Homo sapiens: one gene and its partners. The protein of the gene in region 4 interacts with the protein of the main gene of each other region in a pairwise test. Each region holds a gene or a part of one and is shown on either strand. Other genes may lie near its edges.

The links.
Region 1: the proteins of KCNH1 (region 4) and KCNB1 interact in a two-hybrid assay, tested with the Homo sapiens proteins (one study listed by BioGRID).
Region 2: the proteins of KCNH1 (region 4) and FASTKD5 interact in binary tests that used the Homo sapiens proteins (3 or more experiments, as listed by UniProt).
Region 3: the proteins of KCNH1 (region 4) and KCNC1 interact in a two-hybrid assay, tested with the Homo sapiens proteins (one study listed by BioGRID).

Annotation. Positions count from the first base shown.
Region 1 is NC_000020.11:49,479,479-49,487,237, forward strand, and holds the start of KCNB1 (potassium voltage-gated channel subfamily B member 1), read right to left. Parts: upstream 3,191-7,759; 5' UTR 3,003-3,190; coding exon 2,436-3,002; intron 1-2,435. UniProt on the Homo sapiens protein: Voltage-gated potassium channel that mediates transmembrane potassium transport in excitable membranes, primarily in the brain, but also in the pancreas and cardiovascular system.
Region 2 is NC_000020.11:3,156,583-3,164,698, forward strand, and holds the start of FASTKD5 (FAST kinase domain-containing protein 5, mitochondrial), read right to left. Parts: upstream 3,284-8,116; 5' UTR 3,184-3,283; intron 1-3,183. Other genes in the region: LZTS3 (leucine zipper putative tumor suppressor 3), read right to left, coding at 7,872-8,116. UniProt on the Homo sapiens protein: Plays an important role in the processing of non-canonical mitochondrial mRNA precursors.
Region 3 is NC_000011.10:17,730,773-17,737,946, reverse strand, and holds the start of KCNC1 (voltage-gated potassium channel KCNC1), read right to left. Parts: upstream 3,167-7,174; 5' UTR 1,945-3,166; coding exon 1,375-1,944; intron 1-1,374.
Region 4 is NC_000001.11:210,682,855-210,690,199, forward strand, and holds part of KCNH1 (voltage-gated delayed rectifier potassium channel KCNH1), read right to left. Parts: intron 1,285-7,345; coding exon 427-1,284; 3' UTR 1-426. UniProt on the Homo sapiens protein: Pore-forming (alpha) subunit of a voltage-gated delayed rectifier potassium channel that mediates outward-rectifying potassium currents which, on depolarization, reaches a steady-state level and do not inactivate.

The DNA of each region.
Region 1 (7,759 bases), on a different chromosome or scaffold from region 4:
CAAGGGTCCTGAGGTCAGATAAACTCTGGCCTGTTTATGGAACAGCAAGGCCAGTGGGGCTGGAGCCAAGTGAACCAGAGGAGATCAAAAGAGATGAGCCCAGAGAGGTCATGGGGGCCAGATTCTGCCTGGGCCTTGTATGCCAGGATGAAAAGTCTGAATTTTATTTTGAGTGTGATGGGAAACTTCTGGAGGATTTTAAGCAGATGAATAATGTGATCCAATTTACATTTTGAAAAGCTCACTTTGGCTGCTATGTGGGGAATGGATTGCAGGGGCAAAAGTGGAAGCCGGGAGACTGGGGAGGAGGCTGCGGCACTTGATCATTATAGAAAGAACACTCGGTTTGGATTTCTGGCTACTCCTGACTGCCTGTGGTGTGACCTTAGGCAAGTTACTTAACCTCTTTCAGCCTCACTGTTTGCGAAAGGTGGGATAATAACAGAGCTGCGTTGTTACACTCCATACACAGTAGGTGTTTGATCATTGGCAGCCAGGATTTCTATTCTGAGGGCCAGTGAGCCTGCCTCCCTCCCCATTTCAGCTCTGGCTACAGAAAATCCTAGATGGTCCATCTGCCAGGAATGTGAGCTGGCAGCCCCAGACTGGGATCATGGAGAGGTCACAAGGCTGTCCCTGCTAGCGGATTAACCCAAGGGAGAGGAGAGGTTCTTTATTCCCAAACAGCACCTCTTGCAAGCCCCGGTGCTTGGGTCTTGCTGCCAGACCAAAACATGGCCCTGTGCCTGCTTCTTCTCTGGGAGGGCAAATTGTCCAGTTCCCTGTACCTTGTTCTCATGTCTTAGGGATGGGACAGGGAGGGAGAGTCACATTTGGGCCTAAATGGGATGTGCAGTGGGAGAACCTGTGTCATGCCTGGAAATAGCAAAATAAGTCTGTTGATCCTAAGCTGATTAAGGGTGAGTGACTCTGTCTTAGGAGGAGGCTTTTTGGACACAAAATTGGGGGCGGGATTATGGAGAGAGACAGCCCACAGCCTCAGAGGAGGAAGCCAGGCCCAGGAGCCTCTACATCCTTGTTAGGGCCAACAGGGAAACGAAAAAAACACGTGGGGGCTCCCTCCACCCTCTTACCAGCCACCCCTTCTCCATCCACTCTCAGGGGCCTCTCCTTGGGTGGCTAGATCTGGAGGAAGGACCCCACGGAGTCTCCCTTCAGACTGGGACCTGCAGGTGGGCCTTCAGTGAGAACTGAGCCGGAGACCCCACAATGAAAGGCTGGGCTGGACAGGAGTCAGCCCTAGCTAGTAAGATATGGCTGGATATTTAGGCTTCCTCCTCTCCTCTTTCTTTTACCACAAATCTACTTACCTGACCCCTTTTTTTAGGCCCCACACTCAGTTACATTCTCCCCATGTTTCCCAAGTTGGTCTTGCTGGATTTCAACATCAACATCTCTCTTTTCTGGGTTCTCCGTGAACCTCACAGAACCTCTTTTATAGCCTTGCACACACTGTTTTGTCATTTGCTCCCAGCACCCAGCACTTCGGGCACATGAAGACAGGCCCCATCTTTCCCAGGCAACCCCAAATCCCAGCCTGACGTAGAGAAGTTGCTGATCAACCAGTGCCCTCCTGCCCTGCCTTGGCTCCCACCCCAAGCCTTCCTCAGTCCCCTACAGCCCCTGCCATTACCCAGCAGCACCAAAGACTCTCTGGCCCACTCTTTGTGTTCAAACTCATTCCTGCCTCCTCCTCCTCCTCCTCCTTTATTTTTCACATTGCCTCATTTTTCTCTCCTATTTTGAAATTTACATCTTGTTCCAAGAGCTGAAACATCTTTACAAGCTGCACCAAACCATTCTGGAAATAAACTCACCAAATAAATAAGTAACCAGGGGGTGACCCCTCACCCGCAAGCATCCACAACCAACTGCATGTGTCGTGTGGGTCCACACCCACCCCTCGGGGTCCCTTCTTACTTATGTTTAAACTATCTGACAGTATCTCAATGTCCTGTAAGCATGTCTGTAAGCTGCTTTTTTCCCTTGCTGGGGCAGAGTGAGGTTATAAATATGGAGATATTAAAATCACAGGGTGATCCAATCCAGCCTAGGTCTGGGACTTCACAGGGAAGCAAACCCTACTCCACCCCAGCAAGCCACTGTTGTCTCTCTGTGCTCTCTCTCTTATTCGTCAGTGTCCATCTTCTTGCTGTGGCTTTTTATGGGTCCCTGTGAAACCTCTCCAACCAAGTAGGGGTATAACGTCTTGGATAATAAAAAGATGGAGTGACCAGTGCCACATGGGAAAAGTCTGAGGGGGTTGGTCCTCACCTCTGGGGACTCAGTCCTAGCCCCTCCCCATTACTAATCTTCATCGTTGGGAACAAAGCCAGAGTCCTCCAGCAGTGGTCCTCAATATGGGGATGCAAGCAGATCCCCCCAGACCAGCAGCCCCCAGATCCCAGACTCACCTTGGCAGCCACAGAGGAATTGGGCTTCTCCAGTAGGTCCCAGAGTTTTTTCCTCTTCTCTGCGCAGCACGTGTTATCGAACTCCTCGCCTTCCCGCTCCCGTAGGGTCTCGGCCTCACGCTTGAGCTCCTCGTTCATCTGCTCTTTCTTCTGGTGGTAGCGGGCCTGGCAGCAGGACTCCAGGTAGATCTCGTCGATGCCCCAGTAGTCGAGCTCTTGGCTGAAGCTGAGCGCGCACATCTCCTCCATCATGTGCAGTCGCCCAGTGCGGTAGAAGTTGAGGATGGAGGTGAAGGCGCCCGGGTGGCGGTCAAAGAAGTACTCGTTGTCGTCGAGGCTGTAGTCATCGCACACCTCGAGCAGCGAGTCGTGCGTGTTGCAGTCGCGGAGCTTGCCCAGCCGCGTGCGGGGCAGGCGGTCCAGGGTACGCCAGAGTACCTCGTGCGCCAGCCCCCCGACGTTGAGGCGGACCCGCCGAGAGCACGCCTTGCTGCGCACGATCTCCATGGGCTCGGGCGGCAGCGAGCTGGTGGAGCGGGAGCCATGCTTCGTCATGCCCGCCGGCATCGCTGATCCGGCCGCCCCCGCCCCCCCTGCCCCCCCAGGCCGCTGTCACTCGACGGCAAGGCCCGCTGCTGCGGGGGAGGGGGGCAGGGAGCGCTGTGGGCTGCTGGGGGTGCAGGGGGCCCCGCGGGCGCGCGTCACGGCCGTCTTCTCACCTCCATCCCGACGGCTGCGAGGCAGAAAGCGAAAGCGGACGCGGGTCAGCAAACGGGGAGCTGGGCATGCTGTCCCCCCGCCCCCCACCTCTCCACCAGGCTCCCAGCCGGCCTTGACCTTCCCCCGCGCTTAAGCGGCTCAGTGGGGTAGGACGGATGGTCGCTGTCCCTCCCGCCGGTGCTGAAGTCCGCCGCACCCCATGGATGGAGGGAGGGGCCGCCCCTCGGGGCGGGGAGAGGGCCCCAAGAGATGCCCCTGGAGCCCGGGAGGCCCCACCCTGGGCTTCTGCGGCCCAGGCGCGACCCAGCCGCCCGGGGCGCTGTCCGCCCCTTAGAGTGCTGAAACTCTCTTCATTATGGGTCTCCCGATCGAGTCCCGAACCTGGCCCCGCCATGGGGAGAGAGGGGGAGCTGCATGAAAACTTTCTTTCTTTATCTTTTTCTTTCTTTCTTCTTCTTCTTTCCTTCTTTTTTTTTTTTTTAACGAGTTCTCTTCTTTTCCTTCCCCTTCTCGAGATAATCAAGATTTTGGGGGTGGGGGAATGGCAGCGGGCTTTTTTCCAAATCTTAAAAGATTTGGGGGAATTCCGGGGGTTCCAGGTGCCCACCTGTCCGAGGTCACAACAGACGGGGTGTGCACAACAGCCCCTCTGTCCTGGAGCGACCCCTCTTCCCAAACACTGGAGCATCTCCTGAGATTGCTCCAGCGACAAGGTGAGCCGCGAGGAGGAAAAGCCCGCTCTCGCCTCTCCCTCTGAGCCCCCAACCCTACCGCAGGAGGGGCGGGCAGAGTCCTCGGGATCCGCCTGCTCCGTCCTCCCCTCGCTCCTTCCCCGCCCCCTTCTCCTCCTTCTCCTCCCCCTCCTCTTCCTTCTCCCCCTCCTCCTCCTCTTCCTCCTCCTCCTCCTCCTCCTCCTACTCCTCCTCCTCGTTCCTCTCCCGCGATGGCTTTTTATAACTCCGGGTTCTGCGCCTTTCCCCGGGCTTGGAAGGGAAGGGGTGGGGGAGGTGGGAGGCGGGGAAATGAGCTAAATTTTCTGGCCTTTTCAAAAGGTGCCATCCTCCTACCGCGCACTAGTGATTTCGGGGGGTTCCCCTGAGCACCCCCTGCATGTAGGGCTCACGCCTTAGCCCCAGAATGGGGATTGCGCGTCCCCTCAGGCCTCAGCCCTTGCCTGCCTCCCACCCCGCTCCCCTCCAGCCTGGAGCTGCGGAGCCCGAGCAGACCAACAGGCCGAGCTGCGGCAGGCAAACCCCCTGTCCGTGTCCCCATGCACCCCCACGGAAGGCCGTACGCCCCAACACTCACCCCCAGGGCGGCCGCCTCCTGGGGCCAGGGACCGCGCATCGTCCCGGCCGCCCGGGCGCCCCCGCCCGTGGGCAGCGGCGGTCCCGGGGCCGGGCTGAGCCGGGCCTACCCCGGCCGGGCAGGCAACTCGCCCGGGCTGCAGGCGCCGCGGGGCCGGGGCGCGCTCTCCGAGGCGGGGGGCGCCGGCGGGCGCCGGGGGCGCGGGGGCAGGACCGCGGCCGCGCGGCACCTCCTCCACCTCCTCCTCCTCCTGCTCCCGCGGCGGCGGCGGCGGCGGCTGCCTGGGCGAGATCAACAAGTCGGGGCTGAGCTTCGGCTCCGCGCTCGCTGCTATTCTGTCCCGCACTTCGGAGCGCCCGGAGCCGGGCACCAAGGCAGGACGGCGCCACCTGCGGGTCGGAAGCGAGCGCGGCTTAACTCCTGCCTGCCCGGCCCAGCCTGCCGGGGAGGCCGGGGGCGGGCTCCGGGATCGGGCCAAGGAGACGCGCGTGGCCGTGCATCCCTCTCCACCCAGGCCACCTGCACAGCTGGCCTCGCGATCCCGCCTTCCTTCGTCCCGTCAACAACGTGTGTTGAACGCCTCCTGTGCGCGAGCCGCGGTGCAGGGCACGGTGACAGGCGTCTGAGATACAGCTGTGAATCAAACACAAACATCCGGCCCTCGTGGAGCTGGTTGGAAACAGATCATAAACAAAAAAGCGAAAGGATATATGAGGCGGTGACAAGCGCTGGGGGAAATAATGAAACAGGAGGAAGGGTCAGAGGGTGGGAGGGGGCAGATCGGAACTGTAAATAGCCCTTGCTTTCATGAGCTTCCATTCTAGATTTTAGCGGGGGGTCGGGGGTGGGGGACGGAGGCGGACAATGAATACATCAGTACATATGCAATGTGGCAGGTGGTGATAACCGCTAAGAAGAAAAATAAAGCGAGGTATGGGGAAGAGAGGGTGAAGAGTGAGCTGGTTTATATAGTCTGGTGATTCATTCATTCATTCATTCATTCATTTATTCATGTTAAGTTGGACATCTGGTTATTGACAGCTTCCTATGTGCAAGCAGAATGCCAGGCTCCGTGAAGGGAAAGTCTTCCCCCTGGAGCTCCCCATCCAGTGGGGGAGGCAAAACCCATCACATAATCCCAGAAATGAAAACTGGAGGAGGTACCTGGAGAGGCAGGCAAGGGTTCTCTAAGGATGCCACAGATGGGCCTTGTGTTTACTCATTTATTCTTTCAAATATTCATTTACTGCATGATAAGTAAATAGGTGTCAGCGGCCGGGCACAGTGGCTCATGCCTGTAATCTCAGCACTTTGGGAGACTGAGGCGGGAGGATGGCTTGAGCCCAGGAGTTGGAGACCAGCCTGGGCAACATAGTGAGACCCATCTCTGCCAAAAAATAAAAAATTAGCTGGGCATGGTGCTGCTTACCTGTGGTCTCAGCTACTCAGGAGGCTGAGGCAGGAGGATCACTTGAGCCCAGGAGGTCAAAGCCACTATAAGCTGTGATTGCACCTCTGCATTTCAGCCTGGATAACAAAGTGAGACCCTGTTGCAAAAAAAAAAAAAGAAAAAAAAAAGTGCCGGGGATGGGTACAGCAGTGAGCTCCCCTGCCCTGGAGGACAAAAACTGAACAAGATACAGTGTTCCAACACAGGTTCCTCTCTGGCCCTTTTCTTCCTTTCTAAAATTAAGGGGTTCATTTCCATAATTTCCATAGAGTTGCACATAATATTATTATATATTTTTTACTTGTCCACTTATCATCTCCACCATCATGACCCTTGTCCAAGGTACCATCGTCTTGTCTCCCTGCAACCTCCCTGCAACTTGGCTCCCATCTTGGCCTCATCCCTGGCTCCCATGCCTGGCTCCCATCTTGGCCTCCTACAGTTCATTCTCCCCATGGCCACCAAAACAACTGCTACATTTCATGGACCATGAAATGTTGGACCATGTTTCTCATCTGCTTAAAACCTTCCCAAGACTTTCCCTTGCTTTAGACTAAAACCTAAACTTCTGGCCTATTGCCCTAATTCAGCCCGCCCCCCTTTCTGAGCTTGTAGACCAGTGGAGGAAGACAGGTAACTAAAAAAGTAAATTTTTAAAGAGAGAGTTTCAGGCTACAGTGATTGTTATAAAGGAAATGGAACATCATGATGGGGTGGAAAAAGAGAGACCAAGCTGCTAGTGTTACACAGGGTGGTCAGGAAGGGTGTCTCAGAGGAGATTAATAGAGATTGAAAGATAAGAAGGGACTAGCCATGGGGAGAATGAGGGAAATGCATTCCAGGTGGAGGAAACAGCAAGTGCAAATGACCTGGGGTGTGAGAGACAGTGAACAATCACATTCCCTCCTGCTTCAGTCTGGTGTTCCTAGGGTCAGAAAGGGTTCTCAGCTGGCCCCTCTGTAAGCCTAATCTGTTGAAGGCAACTTTTCTCCAGAGATCTGGGCATTCCCACAGGAGGTTTCAGAAAGCAATAAATCCTTCCTGATGAGAGGGAAAAAATGACTCTATAATGGTGAAATTTCCAGGCATTACTGCAGGCATTACGGTGCCTTCCAGGTACAGCTAAAATAACACCTAGAAGTGCGGTTCTTCTCTACTCCATATAACCAAGGAGTGGAGATGCATGTTTGTTGGGCACCTACTACAAGTAGTCCTCTGAAGGTATAACATCCATCAGCTTCCACATCTGTAAATAAGAGATGAGGTTATTTATAGATGTGGAAGCTAAAGCTCCGAGAGAAGGTGTCTTGCCCAATATCTTGCTGGCAAGTGCTGGCACAACCAGATATGGGAATCTCTTGTTTGACTCCAAAATCAACGGGCTATCCAAATACCAGAGCAGCCTCTCTGCAAAGTCCTTTCTCCATCAGTTCATTTATTGATTAATGGAATCATTCCAGATGTTTACTGAGCATCTACTGTGTGCCTCAGCATGGGTGTTGGTGCTGGGAATTGAGGGTGAGTAATTTATATGGTCCCTGTCCTCGTGGAGCCACACACCTCTCTTGCCAAGGCCAGGAACAGACAGAAAACCTTGTTACTTGTTTTTCTTCTGTATTGTTTTTTTCATTTTTAAATTCCCTTTTATCTGCATTCCCCTCCCACTAGCCCATAGGAAATGGTTGTCATGTGTCAACCGTATATTGTTTTGTTTGGGTTTGTTTTTGCTTTTGCTTTTAGAGATCGGGACTCACTCTGTCATCCAGGTTGGAGTGCAGTGGCATGATCATGGCTCATTGCAACCTAAAACTCCTGGGCTCAAGTGAACCTTCTGCCTCGGCCTCCC
Region 2 (8,116 bases), on a different chromosome or scaffold from region 4:
AACAGAGTAGAGCCTCAGACACTCCTGGACCCTGTCAGTTCCAAAAGGCAATGCCCAAACCTCCCTGAATGATGTGATTTCACAGGACTGAAGAATCTTACCTTTCTCCCTTCCACATACCGGTCTGAGCAGAGCCGAATAGCTTCATTTTAAACTAGAGTCTAGAAGTTAGAGGAGGGGGGCCAGGCAGAGGAAGGAGCGATGCTAACTGTAGACTGAGTATAAGACACCTTAAACACATACAATTTACCACTTACCAGATCTGATCCCTCAATTCTAACACTTTTCCTTTCTATGTCCCAATAAAATTGCCACAAATAAATGAACACTCCAACCCTATTCTTGTCTCAGCAAATAATTTGTTGAGCAACCTTAAGAATTAAAAAGGCAAAAAAACTGGCTAGACAGGTGGCTCATGACCATAATCCCAGCACTTTGGAAGGCCGAGCAGGCAGATCACGTGAGGCCAGGAGTTCAAGACCAGTCTGGGCTACATGGCGAGACCCTGTCTCTACCAAAAAAAAAGGGCAAAAAAACCGAACTTTCTCTAGGTGCTGAGGTATTCTGCTGAGAATCTACAAAACTTCAAAGCCCCTAGTGAGGGCTTAGAGACTGGCAGTAAGGACCTTAGCTGTTAATGTGGATGTTAACTGGGCTAGACTCTTCTGTGTTTCTGTTTCCACACGGGAGCAGGGCCTCAGAGAGGAGTCTACCAGTACTGCGAAGGTGAAGCACTAGTGCAAAGGTGTTTAGGTCAAGTTCAGTGTCACTCGCAGGTCTAAGCCAAACTAAAATTATTCAGTCTAGCAATCCATCCCTTCCTTTTTGTTCTAGACTCCATGCTGATAGGAGAAAAACAGCACATCACAAACATTTGTGAAACTTTTTCAGCTACACAGCCCTTCCGCTTCTCTTTTAAGACTCTGCTATTCCTCTATCAGAATGGCAAGAAGGATGTGGGTAGATATAGTATGACTAAGCCCTGTAGATGATTCTGTTAGAGCTACTGCTTTTAAAGGGTTTCATAAAACCCTGTCTTTAGAAAACCTCTCCATATAACAACAGGCAGTAGGCACTCATGTCCTCTCAGCCCATCTAAATGGGGCTTCTAGAGGAATTACAAAATCCAGGCAGGTAAAGAGAAGTAGCTGCATGCACACAGTCGTCATAAGAGAAAATTCCCAAATAAATGGTCCAAGTACCTATAACTGTTAGCTCAATAAACACTTGGTTTTATCTGCTTTTACAATTTGCAAGGCTGTATAGAGGCTGTATAGTACATACTTCAGACAAATAAAGAAGGAGTTTCAGAATTCTTTTGTTTTTTTTTTCAGACAGGGTCTCGCTCTGTTGTTCAGTCTGGAGGGCAGTGGTGCAATCTCCGCTCACTGCATCCTCGACCACTGCCCCCCACCTCTCACCCCGGCAACCTCCCGGGCGAGGATCGCTCAAGGATCTCAAACGATCCTCCCACCTCAGCCTCCTAAGTAGCTTGGACTACAAGCCCACCACCACGCCTGGCTACATTTTGTTTTTTTGTGTGTTTTTTTTGTTTTTTGTTTTTTTCGTAGAGACAGAGTTTCCCTATGTTGCCCCCAGGTTGGTCTCGAACTCCTGGGCTCAAGTAATCCTTCCACTTCGGCCTCCCAAAGTGCTGGGATTACAGGCATGAGCCACCGCACCTGACCTTAGAATTATTTTATATCAAAGTTGACTTATTCACATGATGAATGGCAAGGCCTTATTAGGGACTAAAAAAATAAACCAATGGATGGGGAAGAAAATCATACTGACTAATAAACATTAGACCTGCATAACTGCCAAAGGCCTCACTTTTTAAGTTATGTTATGCAGCACAGAGTCTTCAGATTTTATTTACTTATTTATTTATTTATTTATTCATTTATTTGAGACGGACTCTCGCTCTCTCGCCCAGGCTGGAGTGCAGTGGCGCGATCTCGGCTCACTGCACACTCCGCCTCCCGGGGTTCACGCCACGCTCCTGCCTCAGCCTCCAGAGTAGCTGGGACTACAGGCGCCCGCCACCACGCCCAGCTATTTTTTTGTATTTTTAGTAGAGACGGGGTTTCACCATATTAGCCAAGATGGTCTCGATCTCCTGACCTCGTGATCCGCCCGCCTTGACCTCCCAAAGTGCTGGGATTACAGGCGTGAGCCACTGTGTCCGGCCCAGATTTTATTTTAGTCTACCAGGTAGTAGCAAACTATCCAAGGACTTGCCCAGGACCATTCAGGTCAGTGAGCTACAGAATCTAGTTCTGGAAAGGCAGCCATTCTTACTATTCACAAAGTGTAGAAAACGTGAATTCAGATTCCAGCAGCAACAAATGACTGGAGCACAAAACGCCAGCCACAGTTGGTGCTAACGCAGCTGGCTATCAGCTCCACAGGATGAAGCACTGTCCAAGGGTCTGATCAGTGAAGCATCACCCAAGACTGATGAACACAGCTGATATGAGGGGACCCAAAGTTCCCTGAGTCAAGACAGAAGAGCTGTGTCACGGTTTGCACAGAAAGAGAAAGAGCAACTATTCTTACCCACGGAAAGAAAAAGGGAGAAGGCCATCAATACTACCCTTAGGCTTGTGCAACGAGAAACTGCTAAAAATGGGGGGAAGGTATATATCCTATCATACTGATGTTTACCGAAGACTCCGCATCCCAAATGCTAAGCAACATACTGTAGGGCCTTGCTACTCAGTGTGTGGTCTGCGTGCCAGAGGCTTCAGCCTCGTCTGGAATCTAGTTAGGAACACAGTTATCTCAGAACCCACCCCAGTCCTACAGAATCAGAATCTCTAAGCGATTCGCAGGCACATCAAAGTGTGATGAGAGGCGCGGCAGAATATCTGACTACATTCTCTTAACAGCACCGTGAGACAAGTACTGTTACGATCTCCATTTCACAGAGGAAAAAAAATCAAGGGTCAGATAAGCCCCCTGCCAAAGATCACAAACTCAGGAGCGGCGAGAGTCACTGAAGTTCTCACCACAGCCAGGCCTGCGAGAGGCACTGGCAACCCAGGCCAAGAGCTGAACAAGGCCTCGATGCGCTCCAGCTCTGGGCCGGCCGGGAGGACAGGAGGCACAGGCCAAGGCCCAGGACGGTCGTGAACGCGGAAAGAGGCCGCCGCGACCTCCTCCCCGGCCGCCGCCACTCACCTGATCCTCCCGAAGGTGGGCGCCGCAACACCAAACCGGGGACGCCGCGGGCGGCGGCGACACAGATACTGGCTCCTCCGGCGACTCCGAGCCTCACAGCCCCACTTCCGGCCAACTGCCCGCTACTTCCGCCTGCTGCGCGAGTGACGGATGCGGCCGAGGCTCAAAAGACTCTGTCAGCGTTTCCCAAGGACATTTTCCACTGGAGGACGTTGTTGAGGAGGCAGGGGGAGTCTAGGACCTGCAGAGGGAAAACACCTTCCTGGATGGATCGCTCTGGAAGTCATTAAGCAGCTTAGTCCCGGCGCGGTGGCTCACGCCTGTAATCCCAGTACTTTGGGAGGCCAAGGCGGGCGGATCACCTGAGTTCAGGAGTTCGAGACCAGCCTGGCTAACGTGGTGAAACCCCCGTCTCTACTAAAAATACAAAAATTAGCCGGGCGTGGTGGCGCACGCCTATAATCCAGCTATTCAGGAAGCGGAAGCAGGAGAGTCGCTTGAACCCGGGAGGCGGAGGTTGCAGTGAGCCGATATCTCGCCACTGTACTCCAGTCTGGGCACCCCTGTACTCCAGCTCTGGGACACAGAGCGAGACTCCATCTAAAAAAAAAAAAAAAAAAAAAAAAGTAAGTAGCTTAGACACATGTTCAAATCTGAGGACCACCACTCAGGGTTTTATGGCCTTGGAGAAGTCACATAAATTCATTCTTGTTATATTATTATTATTATTTTCATAGAGACGGGGATGGCAGTGTCTTCCTATGTTGCCCAGGCTAGTCTCGAACTCCTGGGCTCATGCAATACTGCCGCCTCAGCCTCCGAAAGTACTGGGATTACAGGTATGAGCCATCGCACCCGGCCCACATAAATTCTCTAAGCCTGTACAGTGAGAAAAACAATACATTTTTTTTTTTTTTGAGACAAAGTCTTGCCCCATTGCCCAGGCTGGGGTGCAATGGTGCAATCATGGCTCACTGCAGCCTCAACCTCCTGGGTTCAAGTGATCCTCCTGCCTCAGCCTCCTGAGTAGCTAAGACCACAGGCATGCACCACCACACCTGTCTAATTTTAACAATGCATTGGTCGGGTGTGGTGGCTCACACCTGTAATCCCCGGTGTTGGAGACCGGCCTGGCCAACATGGTGAAACCTCGTCTCTACTAAAAATACAAAAAAAAATTAGCGGGGCATGGTGGCGTGCACCTGTAACCCCAGCTACTTGGGAGGCTAAGGCAGGAGAATCACTTGAACGCAGGAGGTAGAGGTTGCAGTGAGCCGAGATTGCACCACTGCACTCCAGCCGGGGCAACAGTGAGACTCCATCTTTTTTTTTTTTTAATGCATTTATAATAGAGATGTATCTGTAAAGTGCTCTCAGGAAAAGAGCTAGTGACATGATGGATAGATGAGCCTGCTGAGAGAAATGGATGTGGAGCTGGGGCTTAGCGAGGCCAGAGCTATGGAGCATGAGCCAGGGTGATTCTCCACCACCCTAAGAAGGAGGGCTGGGTCCTACTGGGTACATATATTGACACAGCTGTCAGTATAGGTACCTAGACAAGAAAGAGACTCTACTAAACCTCTACCTATCAGAAAGTCCTGGCCCCAGGCTGCCATTCCTGAGGGCACTTGAGATCTGCTGATCAGGGTCTTCATATCTTGTCAATGCCTTGGCTCTAAGGGGTGTGAAGGAGAGCTGAGAAATCATGCTCCCTCCAGGGCCTATCTTGTAGGGAAGACAAAATCAATGTAGGAAGAACACGTCCCTGCCAGGAGGGGCAAGCCTGACATCCCAACTCCTGAGCTCTGGAGACAGCGCTGTTTGAATATCTGGAGCCCCAGACCACAGACACCACTGCTTAGGGAGGGTTCTCTCCCTCAGGCCAGACCAGGGCAAACACTATTCATTGTTATGACTCTGTCCTTGCCAGTAGAACCCAGAGAAAGCAGAGAGCCTGCCCCCAAGGAATGAACCATGTTTGTTCCTAGGCAGCCATGACAATCCTGTTTCTCTTTGTAATACTCAAATTCCCATTCTCCCTTGAAGTGGGAGGAGCATGTGGCTCAGTTCTGGCCAACAGGACTTAAAGGGAAGGGTCCTGGGAGGGCTCTGGGAAAGCTTTTACTTTTCATGATAAAGTAGGGCCGCCTCAATGTCTTCATGGAGCTGTGGCAGCCACTTTGTGGTAAGGAGGGAACAACATGCCAAGGATGGAACAGTGGGAGGATGAAAATCTAGGTCCCCGAGGATCCAACAACCATGACACCACCTCCGGATTTCTTGTCAGGTTGGGGAAAAATAAACCACTCTTTGAGGTCCTTTGATTACTTACAGCAGAGTGCATTCTTGATTGTGTGCTTTGAGAGGATGACAGAGGAACTGTTGTAAAGGGAAGCTCTCTGCTGTGCAGCACGCTTGGGTCCCTTTTGCCTTTGGGGCTTCGCCATTAATTGCAAACCTGTTCCCAGTCTTCACTTCTATCCATTCAGCCCGCAAACATCTACCAGTTGCTGTAAGGTGGCTTAGGCGACTGCAGGCTGCATCTAGCTGTCCTGCGTCACCTGTTTTCTGGCTAGCAGCTTAGTGTCCAGATTCTGAGCTGGAGCCAGCTTTTAACCCCTTTGGCAACAGTCTGAGCTGAAGAGAAAGCCCCACTGGGCATATACATGGCACCACGACTCTTCCCGGGCAACGTGGCAGAACTTGGGCTTTGGGCCAACCTCCTAGCACGGCCCAGTGAGCACCTCCAGTCTCATGCCTCCTCTGGGAAATCTGTTTACTCCAGCTTTGCCCCCATCCCCCACCCGGGCCTCACCTCCCGCACCTGCAAAGACACAAGCAGGCCAAAGAATACCACTCAAGAGGCTTTTTCCGTTTTATTTCTTTGGGAAAGGAAAACAAAAAGTCTTTCCATCACATATGGTAGAGATATATATTTATATATATTTATATATAATTTCTTTTGTGGTTGGACGTCCCAAAGCTGAGTCTGTTCATATTTTTTTCTATTTTTTTCTTACTAATGCCTTCTCTTCTCCCTGCCCCTGTGGCCTAGGCCCAGGTTCTAGGGCAGGTACAGTGAGGGGTGAATGGAATGGGCAGTGGTCGCCAGGATGGCCTCCCACCCAGCTCAGAGACCTGGTGAGGACCACCCAGAAGGGCTGTGCAGAGGGTTAGAGGCCACACAGAGGGGCACTCATGTTTTTGTGGGGGATGCACAGCTCATTAAACAGTCACCAGTCATGGGAGGAGGCTGGTCAGGGGCTAGGGGACTTGCTCACAGTAGTTGCCAGCTCTCTCCACCTTGCCCCCCAAAACTCAGTCTTGGGGGTGGGAGGAAGAGAGTGAAAAAGAGAGAGATATAAGGGCTGAGGGCCAAGCCTCCTCCAATTTTTATTGCTGGTGAATTAGAAATTTGCTTTTCCCTTCCTGTCTTGGGGAGATAGACTCTGAGAGGGCCCCAAGAGAAGCAGCTGACATTGGCTGACCTAACCCCTCATGCCAGGCCTACCCTGGGCAGGTGCTGAGCCACCTCAGGGCGCCAGGAACCTCTCAGGTCAGCCTTGTTCTTCAAGGGCAATCACATCCAACTCTCCCCCCGCCCCCAAAACAAGGGCCTCCGGCTCAGACTTGGGCCAGTGGAGCTGGGAAGTGGGCAGTGCACCAAAGGTCAAGCGGAATTTTCTATTGGAAGAAAAGGTGAGACTTTGGGGAAGAGACTGCCTAGGAAGATGATGTGCTGAGCATGAAAGCAGAAAGAGGCTGGGGGAATAGAGTGCGGGAAGACATCGCAGACACTCGTCTGACCTCAGAAACTGGGCGAGGAGAGTGCCTGAGAGGCAGGTAGCACTTAATAGCTGTGTTAGAGCCGGACAGTGGTCCTGGGTGTGGGGTCAGCCAAGCAGATGGGGCTGTTGCCCTGCGGGATCCTGGCCAGAAGGGTGAGGGTAGAGCCGAGAAGCCGTCAGGCAACGCTTCCCAAGAACAGGAGGACAGATCTTCCCTGGGTGCTGGACTTCCAGCCCCAGTCCTCCCCTCCCGCAACACACACACAGGGACACACACTCACAACCAGGCCAGGCTCTGAGGCCTGAGTCCAAGAGATCTTGTTGGGGGAGGGGCTGGGCAGGTAGCCCTCTCAGCCAAAGGCAGGCCATCTGCTCCCACTTGTCCTGCCAATCTGCCCAGGGAGGGAGAGCACTGTAGGAGGGAGAGAGGTCTGGAGCCCAGGCTCTGTCAGTTTCAGCAAACCTGGTGCAGGCCCCCTCAGGCTCCATGGCCTAGGAGGTGAGCACAGAGAGCATCACTAGACACAGGGTGGCCAACAGTAGCAGCCCAGGCCTCCAGAAGGACTGGGGCACCTTATGGCACTGCACGTCTGCTGCCTCCATCTCCAACAAGGGGGTGCCGAGAAAGGGAGCATGACTCCCCCACCACCTAGGATTGCCCCCACTCACCCTGCCCTCCTCCTATTCCCTCCTTTTAGGGGGGTCCAAGTGGGCTGCCACGGGGGCAGTGCTGGAGCTAGGAGGGCAGGTGGGGAGGGAGGAACCTGGTCACAGCTGCTTAGAGAACCTCTTTGGTCTGGGGTTATGGGGTCTATGGGGAAGAGAGATGGAGGGGAGGGGACACTGGGGACTCTGGCCTTTTGACAGGACATGTGTCAAAATGCCGAGTGCCCAGGTCGATCAGATTTCTGTGGACTCAATGCGCTCGAGGCGGGAGGGGGTCCAGGCCTTCTTCTCCTCGCCATGCTGGGGAGTGGGCGTGCTTGCACCCCCTGCGGCCCCGCGCTCCCGCAGCCTGCGCTCCAGCTGCTGGTTGCGCTGGTACATCTCCACGTAGCTCAGCTGCAGCTGCTTCTGGTACTCGATCACCTTCTCCTTCTCCTCCAGCCACACGCGGCGCTCCTCGGCGAAGCTGGCACCCTGGC
Region 3 (7,174 bases), on a different chromosome or scaffold from region 4:
CACAGACTTTCTTTGCCCATGGGCACTTGAGGTCCCCCCAAGTCTCCTCCCTCCACTCTCCTCTGCAACTTCCTACCCCTCCCTAGCCCTCTACCCCTGGCTCTGGCTCAGGCTCCAGTGCGCAGGAGGGGAGAGATGCGGAGTAAAAGACAGCAGGGCAGAGGCAGTGCTTTGCCTGGTAGGGGGTGAGGGCAGCTCAGGGATGCAGGAGGGGCTCTGCTTTAAATTCTCTACTCTGCCCTTCCCCCACAGGCCTTAGGGTCTCTCTTTAGGCCTCTAAGGACAGAGCCCAGTGAAGGCTGGGAGTGTCTCTTCCAGGGTGGGTGGCTGCTACCAGTTCCTCTTTTTGGGCTCAGTCACTGATGTTCCAGCAGCAAGGCCCTTAAGAGTTCACCAGGCCCCCTCCCCCATTTTACAGATAAGGAAACTGATCCAGAGAGGCCATCTGAGGGACCAAGGTCAGCAGCAGCGTGTCCTTTCTTCCTAGGAACAAGCTGGTATGGCTATAGGGGAGTGGCCCATGAAGACACGCCCACCTCTCACACACCTTCTCCTTGCAGGTTCCCCCTTAAGGACCCTTAAGGACCGACCCCCTCTCCCCACCACGGGATGTCCCAGAGGAAGCACTGGCATAAGCCCAGTGACCCACTCCAACACCCTCCGCTTTCGACAAGGAGGAAGGACAGGCTGTGATCTCAGGATCGGGGGCTCAGACGGACCACCCCTACCTTACAGCCCAGCCCTCCACCAACTTCCAAGCCACCGAGATTAGCCATGGAGATGCCCTCTTGACCACTTCCTCAAAATTGCCGGAGGCTGCTCCCTGAGGAGGGGGTGTCTGTCTCAAGCTGCCCAGCAGGCCTCAGGCCTTTTTGGGGGACCATGGCTGGCTCCAGATGCGCCTTTACCTGGACAGGAGGAAGGGCTCCCAGCTTCCCTCCCCACACTGAAATCTCGAGAGCAGTCCATACTTTGACAGTGCACCTCTGCAAAGACACAAATGTTCACGGGCAGGCGCTCATGCACACTCGAACATACACACATGCTCACTCATTCCCACTCCACACTTTACCCACCCAAATACACACCACCACACTTACATAAATATGCACACACAATCTACTCATACACACAAACACACCCATTCATACTCATACATATTAAACTTGGCAACACACAGACTGACATACATAGAAAACCAGAACCCCGGCGGACACCCTTCCTCTCTTACCCTGGTACGTGCACACATGCGCACACACCCCCTTTCGATTCTGAACTCCCTAGGCGCCAGTTCTCCGGTCCACCCCTGCCCGCGGGGAGGCACAGGACGCTGCCTTCCCGCCCCGCTCTTCTGATGGGTAAATTGTCACTTACCCGCGCGTAGCGGGACGAGTACGGGTCCTCGAAGAGCGCCCAGATGCGCGGCTGCCAGCGGCGCCAAAAGCCGCCAGGCCGGCCATCCGGGGAGTCACTGAGCGCCAGGCGCTTGGTCATCTCCAGCTCGTCCTCGCCGTCGCCCGAGTCGCCAGGGCCGTCGGCGTCCGCGTCGTCGGCGCTGTTGTCCAGAGGAGCGCCGCCGAAGCTGTCCAGAGCCTCCTCGGCGTCGCGGTGCTGGCGGTACGTCATCCAGCAGCAGGGCTCCACGTCGGTCTCGTCGATGCCCCAGAAGGCCAGCTCCTCCTCGTAGAGCGGCCCGCACACGTCGGCTGGGCAGTGCAGCTTGCCCGTGCGGTAGTAGTTCAGGATGTGCGCGAAGACGCCGGGGTGGCGGTCGAAGAAGAACTCGTCAGCACGCGGGTCATAGTCGAAGTGGCTGTGGGCGTCGGGCTCCGCCAGCCAGGCGAGCCGCGTGCCGGGCAGCGTGCGCAGGGTCGAGCGGTACGTCTGGTGGCGCGTGCCGCCCACGTTGATCACGATGCGCTCGCTCTCGTCCCCTTGGCCCATCGCGGCGCCCCCTTAGGCATGGCGCGGCCCAGCGACACCCATGGGAGCGGCCGCCAGGGGGAGTTGGCGCCGGGGAGGGGGGCGCGCGCCCTCTTCCCCCCTCCCCCCAGCCGTCGGGGGGAACAGAGGCCTGCGGCTCTGGCCACCCCAACGAGCGAGCCAAGCCTCTCCGGGCGCTTTGTCGGGTGCCGGTCCAGGGGAATGTGCGCGGGATCCCAGGGGTCTCTAGGAGCCAGATGTGGGAGGGAGCTGGTCCGGCAGCGGAGGAGGCAGAGGAGGAAAGAAGGGAGGGAGAAAGGGAGGGAGAAAGGGAGGGAGGGAGGGAGTGAGGGGGAAAGAGGGAGGGGGGCGGGCTCAGCAGCGAGCCCCGGGAGGTGGGGAAAATGGGTTGGGGGGCCGGGCTCCCGTCCCCATCTCCGCGGGAAAATGGAGAAATCGGCACAAAGCTTTTGGGGGAAAGGTCAGCCGCTCCCGGGGCCGGACTAGAGGCCAGCCCCCAGGAGGGGGAGGGGAGGAGACAGGGCCGGGAAATTCGCGCTCCTCTGTGAGGTGGTCGCCGCGGCGCGCTCTCGGCGCGGGGGAGATGGATGCCGCCTGCCTTCCTCCCTGCGTGGCCGGGCTGCAGCTCGGGACGCAGGGCGGGCTCCGGCCCCCTCCCTCTCTCCTTGCTTGGCTGCCTGCTCCCCCCGGCGGCGGGCCCGCCTGCCCGCCCGCCCTCCTCGTTCCTTCTCCCCGCCTCCTGGAGGAGATGGCGGGCCCCCTGGGCAGGGGCACCCGGGGTGTTGCTCGTGCGGCTAACGCCGAGCGCTGCTCTCCGTGAGCCCGGGCTCGAGCTGGGGTTCCGCTGGGCTGCGCTCGGACTTGGGCTCCCGCGGCGGTGCTGAAGGGACAGCTCCCGGCGGTCGCGGAGCTGCACGGGGCCAGGCGGGGGTTCTCCTGGCTGGGTTTGATTTGCGGGGCCGGCGGGCACTGGCTCCGGTGCCTCTGCGCCCCGCACTCCGCTCCTCGCTTCGGGCAGGCGGTGGGCGCTGCCGGCCGAGACGGGGGCTGCGGAGGTCGGGCGGGGAGGCGGGGGTGGCGGGTCCGGGCGCGGCGAGGTGAGGCCAGCGAGGCCGGTGAGGCGAGGCGCGGAGCGGCCGCTGCCGCCGCCGCCGCGACGCTGCTGCCGCCCGGGCTGCTGCTCCGCTTGCTGCTCGCCCGTCGCCTGCTCGTTCGCGCGGTCCGCGTCCAGCCCGCCGCTCTCCGGACACGGGCACACGGCGCGCGCAGCCGCACTCGCCCCCGGAGGAAGGCGCCGCGCTGGGTCCTAAAAAGCCCTGATTCCGCGCCCCCCTCCCAGCCCCGCACCGAGCCCGGCCTCCCTCAACCTCGGCGCTGGGGGCGCCCGCCCCGCGCGGCTCCTGCTGCTCCCGGGGGACCCGCCCACGGTCCGCCCTCGGGGAACGCCACTCCAGGGGCGGGGGCTCCGAGAGACGTCTGGGCCCGCGCCCCCGGGTCAGACTGAGGTGAGAAGGGCGTTGGCACCCTCCCCTTGCCTTCCAAACCAGGGACCATCTGATCCCTGGTGAGACAAAGCTCTCCCGGAGTTTTGTCATCAGAGACACCCTGGCCCGGACCAGTGCTGACCGCTCCAAGGAATCCTTTAATACCGACCCTTCTCGCGGAACCTGGAGGCCCCATGTTCCTTCCATGGGTAATGTCTTGCATGAACCCCAACACACACACACACACACACACACCACGTTATCCTCTACGCCCTCCACTAACAATCAATCCTGGACCCCTATTAACCCCTTTGGACTCCTTACTGACCCTGGGCCCTTTATAGCTTCAGACAGAGGGAGTCTCCCATGAGTGCCACATCCATCCAAGCTCACGGACTCTCCCACACTAACCCTGGATCCCTAGGTGGAGACCCCTTATGAAAAGGACCTTCTGCCCTCAGAGGTCAGAAGCAGCAACTGCTCGTAGTTTCCCTGAGCACTGACACCCCCACCCCGCACTTCCTAGGGCTTCAACTGCCCTGGGTGATAAGCTGGTGTTATGTCTGGGAGCTGGGTGGGAGCTGCTGCTTGCTGTGATTCCTCCATCTTCACAGTTGGTCCTGGGGGTGGGAGTTCCAGTTTGAACCTCAAAGCCTTCCTGGCCCATGCCTGCTGCTAGTGCCTTGGTTTACTCAGTAAAGCAATCACTCCTTTACTCCTTACTTGTTTCAGGATCCGTCCCAGGCACAAGGACACAAGAGATGAATCTGACCCAGCCTCTGGCCTTGAGAAGCTCCCAGCCTTCTGGGGAGGTGGCCAGGTGGGCCTAGGCAGGACTGGGGAGGTCAGGCCCGTCTCCAGGGGTGGCTGGGGTGGGAAAGAGGCTTATTGATCCCAGCTCAACCCAATCGAACACAGGATGCCTGGGCAAAGGGCGATTTAATTAAGAAGATATGAGGCTTTTATTACTGCTGGCACTTTCTAACTGTGCAGACAGCTGTCCCTCTACCCTGACCCACAGATGCCGTTGTGAGCCTGGGGACAAAGCTGTGCCACAGACATCGCTCTCCTTACTTGGCCAGGGGAATCCCAATCTAGCCACAGGAAAATCTGTGTGTGGTGGGTAAAAGGCTTGAAGGGGTGGAGAGGGGCAGGGCAAGGATTGACAGATGGGAATAGGACAAGGGGAGAGACAGAGAGGCTAAATTAAGTCAGAAATGGGCAGAGTTGGGCAGAGACAAAGAGAGGGTTGGATTTTGGGGCCTGCATGGCACCTCCTCCCTCCAGATATTGATCTGTGTGATTCCTCTAAATAGGAGCTGTTTCCCCTTCAATCTCAGAGTAATGCAGGGATGAGAGTGATTTTGAGTGTCCCTTTCACCCTGACCAGTGTGAGTCCCCATCTCCTAACCACAAGGAAGCCTGGCCTGGTGTGGCCCGGCCTGGTGTGGCCCATCCTGGCCCATATTCAGATCCCCGGGACATGGGTTCTCAGGAAATTCTGTCCCAACATTGGTAGAAGATGAAATAGAAATGGAGAATCCAGAAGGAAGAGAAAAAGGTGGACACAGAGGCAGACACATACACACACACACACACACACACACACACACACACACACACACACACACAGCTGGGAGAAATCAAGATGGGGAGAGACAAGAAAGCAGCCTCTCCAAACCTTCCTTTCTTTCTACCCAGATGTCCAGCCCCTCTTCTCACCCAAGAATCTTCTGGGATTCTACTAGCCATAGGGTTCCAGGACTTCACCTCTCTCTTCACCTGCAGAACCACACGGGATCAGAGTATGGCTCCTGATCTTCTCCATAGCTCATCTGATCTCCATAAAAGGACCATCAGCTCCTCCAGGGCTTCTTGTTTGCTTCCCTCCAGAGTGCCCAGAATACAGTAGATCCTCACTAAGGTCCAGATGATTTGAGAAAGGCTAGGAGAGAGGCTGGGATCCTAGAACCCAAGTGGCAGAGACTGTGGGAGTCTGGAACACCTAATGGAGACCAAGTCAGGAGGAGGGACTTACCCAGGGTTTTTTAGGGAATCAGTGCAGGGCCCCATCACTACGCCATGGCGAGTCCTAATAGGGGGCTGCAGTGTGACCCAGGCAGTTGGGGAGGGGGCACAGAGAGACAGAGAGAAACAAGGGGCTCCTGGTAGGCAGAAGGTTGGGTGATTAGGGGCTCTGGACGATGTGTTAGAAAGAGGGAGGTAGGCCAGGGTTGGAGGCAGAAGGAATGTGAAAGGGTATTCATTGCACCCTAAAGCCCATTACACCCTAAAATCCCCCAAGAGGTAAGCAGAGAAAACTCAGACACAGGAGCCTCCCCAGCAGGAGAGGGTAGCTGTTCCCAATGTGCCCCACACTGTTCCACTTTAGGATTCTCACTTTGATCCCTGATGACACACCCCCAGCCCAGGCCCCAAAGAATGGCCTCCCTTGTGGATCCTGAACAGGACATCAAACTTTCTTCTCTCACTTCCCCTTCACACTGCGAGAATGCTAGCATTTGCAAACAGCCTAGGAAAACCAAGAGGGCAACACAGAAGAAATCAACAAAAACCAAAAACCAGAAAACAGAGAAACAGAGGGTTTTGGGGGGAAATAGGAGGAAGAATGACTAACCATTCCCTAGCTTCTCACTCGCAAACACTAACGACAGACCCCCAGCTAGACTGAAAACCTCACTCCTTTTCCACTTTGGAGCAGCACCTCCTATTCGCAGCCATTTGCCCCTCCCTTGCAGAAGAAAGCTTGTGGTCTGGTGCCAGAGGGTCTTTGGTAGCTGGGGCTGGTGGGGGTGGGAGCAGTTGTGGTGTGGTATGTTCAGTGGCTAAGAGCACAGACTTTAAAACCAGACTGCCTGGATTCAAATCCCAGCTCCAGTACTGACTAGCTGTGACCTTGGGCAAGTTACTCAACTTCTCTGTGCCTCGTTTTTTGCTTTTACTGTTGTATTGAAATAATAATAATAACTCCTGTATCCTTAACATCTAAGTTCTAGAATTTCTCTTGTTTAGGCCCAAGGAGGGATTGCTGGGCTTCAGTAAGCTTCATGTAGGAAAGGCTAGAATATAAGCTGGTGTTGGGAGTGGACTAAAAAAAAGGTGAAGGGAGTTCTGAAGCCAAGTTTGGCCTATGTTTTCCCACCTGGCACTTGCAGGCCTTAGATCTGGTCCTGCTAAGCTCTGGAACTGGCCCAAGTCCAGCCCCTAGGCTTTTGTCCAGGTTGGCACATCCTCCATGCTGCTCTCCCAGGCCCAGAGCCTCAGCCCTCCTGGTGGGCTGGGGTGCCATCTTGTGGCCATGGCTGGGAACTAACCTAAGCTGGGTATTGACCGAGAAGGCTTTGAGGATAGTAACCCTGCTCTGATGGTAAGCCGTGGGGGTGGCAGACATCCCCTCCCTAGACCATACCGCCTGCCTCCAATGGTCAGGGAAGATTGAATCCAGAGATGCCGTAGTGGGAAATTGGCGACCTTGGCCACAGATCTGTAGGTTGAGCAGTGACCCTGGTAACCTGGGCTGAGCTGCAGCGAGGTATACAGCTAGCTGTTCCTTCTTGGAAACTCTGGGGCAGGGGCACCAACATGGCTTAGGCCATGGGAAGTCCAGAAAGGGGCCAAGGTGAAGAATACTCTTGGAAGGTGTCTAGACCAGGGTTTCTCAACTTCTGCACTGTTGACATCTTGGCTCAGATGTAATCCTTTGCCAGGGTTGGGGCCGGGTGCTG
Region 4 (7,345 bases):
CCACTGCAGTCCATGGGGGGTCTTGGCAAAGGAGCCCAGCATAGTATATACATGAGAGGTTCTCGGCACTTTCCCACCAGTCCCCAGATGGCTGCTGCTCTGTTCTGGTAGTTTTAATCTTTTACAAATATCATGGTAGTAAAAAATTAAAAATGAAGGAAAATACCCTTTAGACAGCATGTCCCTTCTTCCAAAATTGTGCAAAGACGGTTCAGATGCAGCTGCCACCTTGCAGGGTAGGGGCACGCTACCCTTCCCATATCTTTTTCCAGATAGAGAAAGAGCACGTCTAAGCCACTGGCCCCACTTTTTCTGTTAGGAAAAGCCTACTTGAAAATTGTTGGTCATGTGGACATATGTGGTAGGGGTGGTGGTGACGGCAGGGTTGGAGGTATCTGTCTCTGACTTTTTTTTTAAATAGACCTCTCAGCTGGCTCCAAAAATGTCTCTCTCTGATTCTGGGGACTGTGGCCTCGATATTTCAAACAACTCCTGAGGAGACTGAGAGGATCTTCTGGAAGTTAATATCCTGAGTATCTCAGAGAGCTGTTTCTCAATATTGGTCATTTTGGCGTTTAAGGCCTTGATGTCCTCCTTCAGCTCGTGCCTCACCTCCAGGACTGTGGCCTGCAGCGTCTGCTCAGGGATGGGGTAGAACGAATGCTTGACCTCTGCCAGGATGGGACTCCGATCCTGGGGACTCCTGGCCTCACCCACGTTGTCCAGGCGCAAGTCGCTCTTGGTGATGCCACTGTCACACGAGTCTGTCTTCTTCAGTGTGGCCTCGCCTGACGCTTTTGTCCTCTCGGGAAGTGTCTCCATCGACTCAGCCTTGGACACCTTGTTCCAGTCCTCACTCTTCCCGCAAGCATCTTTGAAGCGGGCCCAGCTTTTGCGCTTGGCACAATCGCCCCCGCCCCCCTTGGGGCCCAGGCACTCGGACCCTGGCGCCTGTAGCTTTGCGTGGTCTGGCACCCCGGAGGTGGAGGCTGCCTGGAAGGATACGGGCGTGGCAGGACTCTCACGCACGGTGACCACGCTGGCCTTCACGAGGCTGTGGTTGGCGGAGGCATGCTCTGTAAGGACATTGCCCTTCTCCACATCTAGGTCATCCAGGTCCCGGCCCCCTCTCTCAGCTGCCAGCCTGGCCTCTTTCTGCTGTCGGAATCTCTGGAAGAGGCGCCGGACAGGGTGGTCCGGGGGCAAGATCAGGGGGGCCTCATTCTTTCGTTTCATGCGTTCTTCCTCTTCACGTTTCACATCGCTGATCTTCCGGAACACAATCTGGAGAGAGAGAGAGAGAGAATGACATGGCGTGTTAGCCACATGCTGGCTGCAGCAGCCCAGCTCAGCCCTTCTGCCTATCTTGGCCCTCTGCTTCCAGTCCACCTGCCACCAAGAGGCTGGGGCTCACAGCCTACAAGGCCTCATGAGGCTTTTCTCTATGACTGACATCACCCTCCTTTTCTTGACACTGGCTCCCAGCTTTCCAACAGCAGGGAATTGACTCCCTTTGTCATTCCCTTCAAGAGGAACACATCCCATTTTTTCCCCTCTCCACATGCCAGGAGGCTGAAGAATCCAAAGAGCATCTTCCCAGGGGACTGTCCTAGCCTCTGTGCCTGGCCTCCCTTAAATCCATCCTTGTCTGCAATTCAGCAGCATCTGATGAGCCTTTCAAATATCACTTTTCTGGCCCCACTTCAGACCTACTCCATTAGTATCTCTGCACAAAAGTTTGAGCATCTCTGGCCTAAAACCACACTTCAGGGCAAGAAAGTCCCCAGGCAAGGCTACAGCTAAGGTTTCCAATGCCACCCACAGATCTGGACCCTAAGTGAATGTGGTTGGCTGTGAAAAGTAAAAGTCATTCTCACACGGAAGTCCTTGTCTTGGGGAGCTTACAGTAGACTAACATCTGTAAAGTTGAACATAAACTTGTCCTAACAATAATACCCATCACTTGGACAGTGCTTTGCAGGTCACAAGGCACTTTAATGCTACTTCATGTATTCCTTTTGACAGCACTGTAAGGTCACTGGAACAACTGTTATTATCCCCATTTCAGAGATAAGGTAAACCACAGCTCAGGGTGGCTAAATATCACATAACAGGTAAGTTGCCTAGAAGGGACTTGTACCCAAGGTATCAAACCCCAGATCCGTTAGGTGGCCAGCAGGTAATGACTAATGGTGACAATACTTCACGCAGAGGATGGACCATCAGCAAAACAGACTCATGAATTTGGCCCTGAGTGCAGCATAAGCCACAGCTTACAGGGCCTTCCCCTGGGTCAGCATCTGACTATGGGAAAGCCCCAAAATTTCTAGCTTACATTGCATGTGGCAGTTAGACTCTGGGACGTGTTTTGACCCATATCATGTTTGAATTCGTGAGAGGCAACCTGCAATAGGTTGTCTTTTTAGTGTAAATTTCTGATTTGAGGACTAGAGGTATTGAGATTGTGTAGAATTAGAGGAGAGGCCTGCGGTAAGGGAGAACAGCAGCTTTCTCATCATCCAATCTGGAAAACTCTGTGCCCTGGGCAGGCCACTTAGACCCACCCAAAACCTGTCCCAGGGACTTGCCACAGGACCGCCAGTCTTGGGGAGGCACACGTGGTGGCATGCCAGGAGCAGGGGTTTGGGGTCAGAAAGAACTAAGTTTAAGTCCCAGCCCCATTACTTGACTGTGGAACCTCACAGAGGTATCTTAACTTCTGAGTCTCAGCTTCCTCCTTAAAAAGTGAGGAAAATCTCTACTTTTCAGACTTGGTATAAAGCTGATACAAGATGACTTATATGAAATCACTGGCCCACTGGAGATGCTTAAATGGCTCCTGTTGTCCTTGACCTTTCACAGCCCCCAGATGAAGATGACAAGCAACTCACCCTACCTCCTCCAAGAGGCCCTGCCCCATGCTATCACCAGCAGGTTCTCAGGTATGACCAACAAGATGATTGTTTTATAGTGCCCAACACAGAGAAGCCAAATAAACGGTTAATTGCTTGATGCTAGGAATCCATCAGCAAATCGCTGGCAGACTAGAGGCCCACGTCTATGCTCTAACTTCTTGGTTAAAGTTTCTGTCACTGGCTGACTTTACACTGAGGTCACTACACAGGTGGATGGATGGTTAAATCTTCCAGCTATTACCTGGGTTCCAGTATGTGGCTTTCTGACCTCCACTGGGCAGCATTTCTCCCATCCCTGCCTCCTCTGGTCCCCTCCTTAGCTGTACCCCAACTGCCCCTATAGTCTGCCTTGCAGATCCAAGAAATGGGACTCAGGAGAATCCTGTCCACCCTGAAGAGGGCCAGAGAAACCCAACTAAAGGCCTCATGGGGGATGGGAAAGTGATAAGTAGAGTGATTGGGACCCTTTTCACTCTGTGCTCTGAGTTGGATGCCTCTGTACACACTGTGCTCTGTTCTGGGAATGGCCTCTGCTCTCCATTGAGCATCCAAATCCTGTTCACACCAAGACCCAGCGCAAATGCACCTCTTCCAGAAAGTCTTCCCTGATTCCAATGTGCTCTAAGTTATCCTCCTACCTCCCAACTCCAATGGCCCTTTCTATGGTCAGACTGTTCTTCTGTCCTAGTTACTCTCTATCTTTTATCTATTTGTAGTAGGGAGGCCAACTTTCTTCTGCCTACTCACATGCCTTCTTAGAGAGGAGAGGAGAGAATAAGGGAATAGGAAGGAAGGTGGAATGGAGGGAAGGAATGCAGAAAAGGGGAAGGAGAGAAATGGGTGAGAATGTGAATGTACCCAAGAGAGATGATGGCTTTTAGAGCTCATTGCTCTTTTCCTGCCCTTTATATCTGCAGGATATCTGATTCCTAACACTATCCCCCTTTTTCACTTGAGCAAGTTTGGGTGAGTCTATTCCTTGTAAGCAACAATTCCTGAACACAAACATATCTTATCCCCCTAAAAGGTCCCTGAGGGTTTAGAACAGTACTTTGGAGGTCACACTGTATTTTTTACTTTTTAAATTTTTGCTTATTATTTGCCCTAAAAGAGCAATGATTTTCCATTTTGTTCCCAATTTCCAGCTGTTTGAAGTGCCTGGTACCTAGCAGGCCCTCAGTAAATATTTGTGGAATGTAGAACACATAAATATTGGCTAATGAATCCGTGGGAGAATATCTTCTTCCTGGAAAGAAGAAATCACAGAGGTCATAGTCAATGTTATAAAAAGCAGGGTTTGGCCTGGACACACATCTCCCTCAACATCAAAGGTCAGGGGCAGCCTCTGAGACTTGAGATGTTCTAAGACTTATGAAAAGGAAGTTCTTCAGATATTGAGGAGTCAACGCAAAACGGATCCCAAGAGGCTGTACAGCAAAGGCTTAACATAATTCATGGTGGACATTTGGGAGGGGAAGTGGGAGTTCCTCTTTGAGGGTGTGGCTATATTGTGCTTGTCACCCAGAGGCCCCATGGGTCAGAATCCTGGACTGAACCAGCCAGCGTATTCAGGTGTTCTGACTGAGTGGTCGACGTGGGCAGTTCAGACACTCAATGACAGGGCCTGTTGGTGGAACCATGGGTCTCTGGATCTGTGCAGGCTTTTTTTCCAAAGTGTCATCTTAGGCTGCCCTCCATCATCCTGTGTGCTAGGCAGCCCCCTGAACATCACTGTCTCAACCAATGGACAGGTGAGCCAGGGACGAGCTTCCTACCCTGCAGAAATGCCTGGTTCTTCCTTTGAGAATCAGAGGGGTAAAACCAGCAACCCCCAGGGGACAAGGCAAAAGGAGTTTTTACAGAGCTGATGTGGTCTGACAGCTTTGCTGACCTGGAGTCAAGGGCTCTGCTTACTAACTTCGACTGCTTTTCTGGAGAAGTTAGTCACGGAGTCTGTCTCAGAGGCAGCCATGACCACGCATTTTGCCAAGTATTTTAGATCTAAGTGGGCAGGAGTGGTTGTATGACTCATGACAATGAGGTCTGTGCCACCAGCACCAGCCACAGCAGCTCTCCGTCTGCTTGGAGATGCTCCACAGCTCCCCATGGCAAGAGTGTATCCTGGGAACGATGGGCATGACTCCCAACTCCCTAACTCAGGATGCTCCCTGTACTGGACAGGTGATGGATGGAGGTCTAGGGAACAAGTGTGTCCAAAGTATTCCATGATGCTCTAATAGGTACTATGAGGGGGAAAAGTTCCAAGGTTAGGTAAGTTTGAGTCACACTGCAATGTTAAATGGGTTGCTTTACTGCAGGACTTCTCAGAGCCTTAACATGCTAATGTGCCTTACGAATGTCTAAGGGGAAGACATTATATGCAGCATTTCTTAAGCCAGTTCCCCCAGATCCACTCTTTTGAATGAAAGAACCCCGTCTGGAAAACACTAAAATTATATCAATGTGTAGGGTATAGGATGCTCTCTGTATTTGTGTATAGCCCTAACAGATGGTCAGTTGTTTCCTGTTCCAACTGAAGGGGACCTCTTGTCTCTAACTCATTCACTGAACCCCTGGAATTTGAGATTTGAGGACTCCATTGCAGATGCATTACCCCCTGGTGGACAGGCCAGGATCAATCCAAACTTTGTGGCTATAGCCATCCCCCTGTTTGTGAAGCCAAAAGAAGTGATGCATATTGCCCTCCCTCCAAAAATCTGCTTCTAATGTTTGTGGTTTAATGGGGAGAGAGAAAAAGAGATCACAGGTAACTTCTCTATGCACCACACATAGGCTCCTGAAGGATGGTGTGAAAATAAAACCCTAAAGGACTTCCATTTTTCACTCATCCTCATTGCAGGCTGACCTCATACTGATTTCATCATCTCTTCCTGGCTGATTTTATTTTTTGAACTCTTACATGAGCTCAGAGAGCTGACATTTAAAAGTACCCCTGAGATAAACATTTTTGCAATGAGGACAACTGCTCATTGGCTCTTGCCTTCTTTTTTCACATCACAGATCCTTAGTCAGGGACCACACCAACAGAGAGGTGCTGGGGTCTGTCTGGAGAGGTTGTTCCACTGCAAAAGGCCCAGCCCTGGTGATAGAAAACTACTCTGTTCCTGGCATGGGTTCAAGGCACTGGTAATGGGATAAGTCCAGATCCTTCCTGGATCCAGCTAGAGTCCTGCCAGCCCACAGGGGCATATATTTTTCTAGCCTGACATGTTGCTCAGAATGCTGAGAAGCTCATGACTTATTGCAACCTAGAGACAGAGGACACCTGGAGGGCAGGGATGCTGCTGTGCCTTGCTCATCCAACTTGGCATCCCTCTGAGGTCGCACCAAGCCAACAGCCCTGAGCCTGGGAAGACTTAAATGGTTGTTGAGCTGAATGGAATTGACACTCAGATCCTTAAGCTACAGGGATTTCTGAGTAATTATTTTCAACTTGGTTTGAAAAACCAATACCCCTGGAATCTGACGTGAGTCAGGATAGTCGACCACCTCTTCTGGGTTACATTAAAAGAAGGCCCAGCTCTTCTCGTGCCTAACCTGTTCTCCCCTTGGCCTGGTCCTAGCTAGAGTTTGAGGAGTTGTCCCCTTGGGGTCTCAGCAGCACGCATGGGGGAAAGGCAGGCCTAGGAGGGGAATGGACTTGCTGGTGTCCTGACAGCAAGACGATGTGGGGAGGGCACCCAAGTGGGAGCACATTTACTTAAAAGAACTCAGATTGTGGAATAAAAATACATATGTAATGTCAGTCCTCAGTGGTTTGCATAAATGAGCAGGGGCTGAGGTGTGAGTCATTGAAATCTATGGATGTATCAAAAAGGATTTAGATGATTTTCTCTTGGGTTCAGACACACGTCCCCAGTCTGAAATGCTCAGCAGTAGAAAGAGCACTGGCTTGGAGTGGTCCTAGCTCTGCCACTGACCAGTCACTGTGTGACCTTGGGAAAGTTATATCCTTCCTTGGTTGTATCAGATCAATGGTTCTGAAATCTGGCTACACGTCAGAACCCACTGAAGAGGTTCTCTAGTGAGTGAGAATTTCCCGTGGCAGGGCTAGAAACTGGCATTTGCAGCAAACTCCCAGGTGATTCTGACATGGGCAGCCTGACCCAGGTCTGCTGACCAGGCTCTCAGAACCCCTGGATGGATGGATGGTGAGGTCACTGCTACTCTGCTGTCCCCTGTGCATGGACTTGTGCTCACACATGAGCATGGCCACACACACCAGCTTCCTGTGCACCTCTCTGCCTGTACTCACACTTCCAGCCAGACTCAGCCCTCCTAGGTGCTGCCTGGGATTGGAGTGGGGGATGACCCTGGTGAGTCTCTCCCTCAGCCTCTGGTCCCTGAAGGATGACTAAGAGGAAACGCGCAGGCCCTGCAACCACCTTTAACTCTTTCTTTCTTAGATC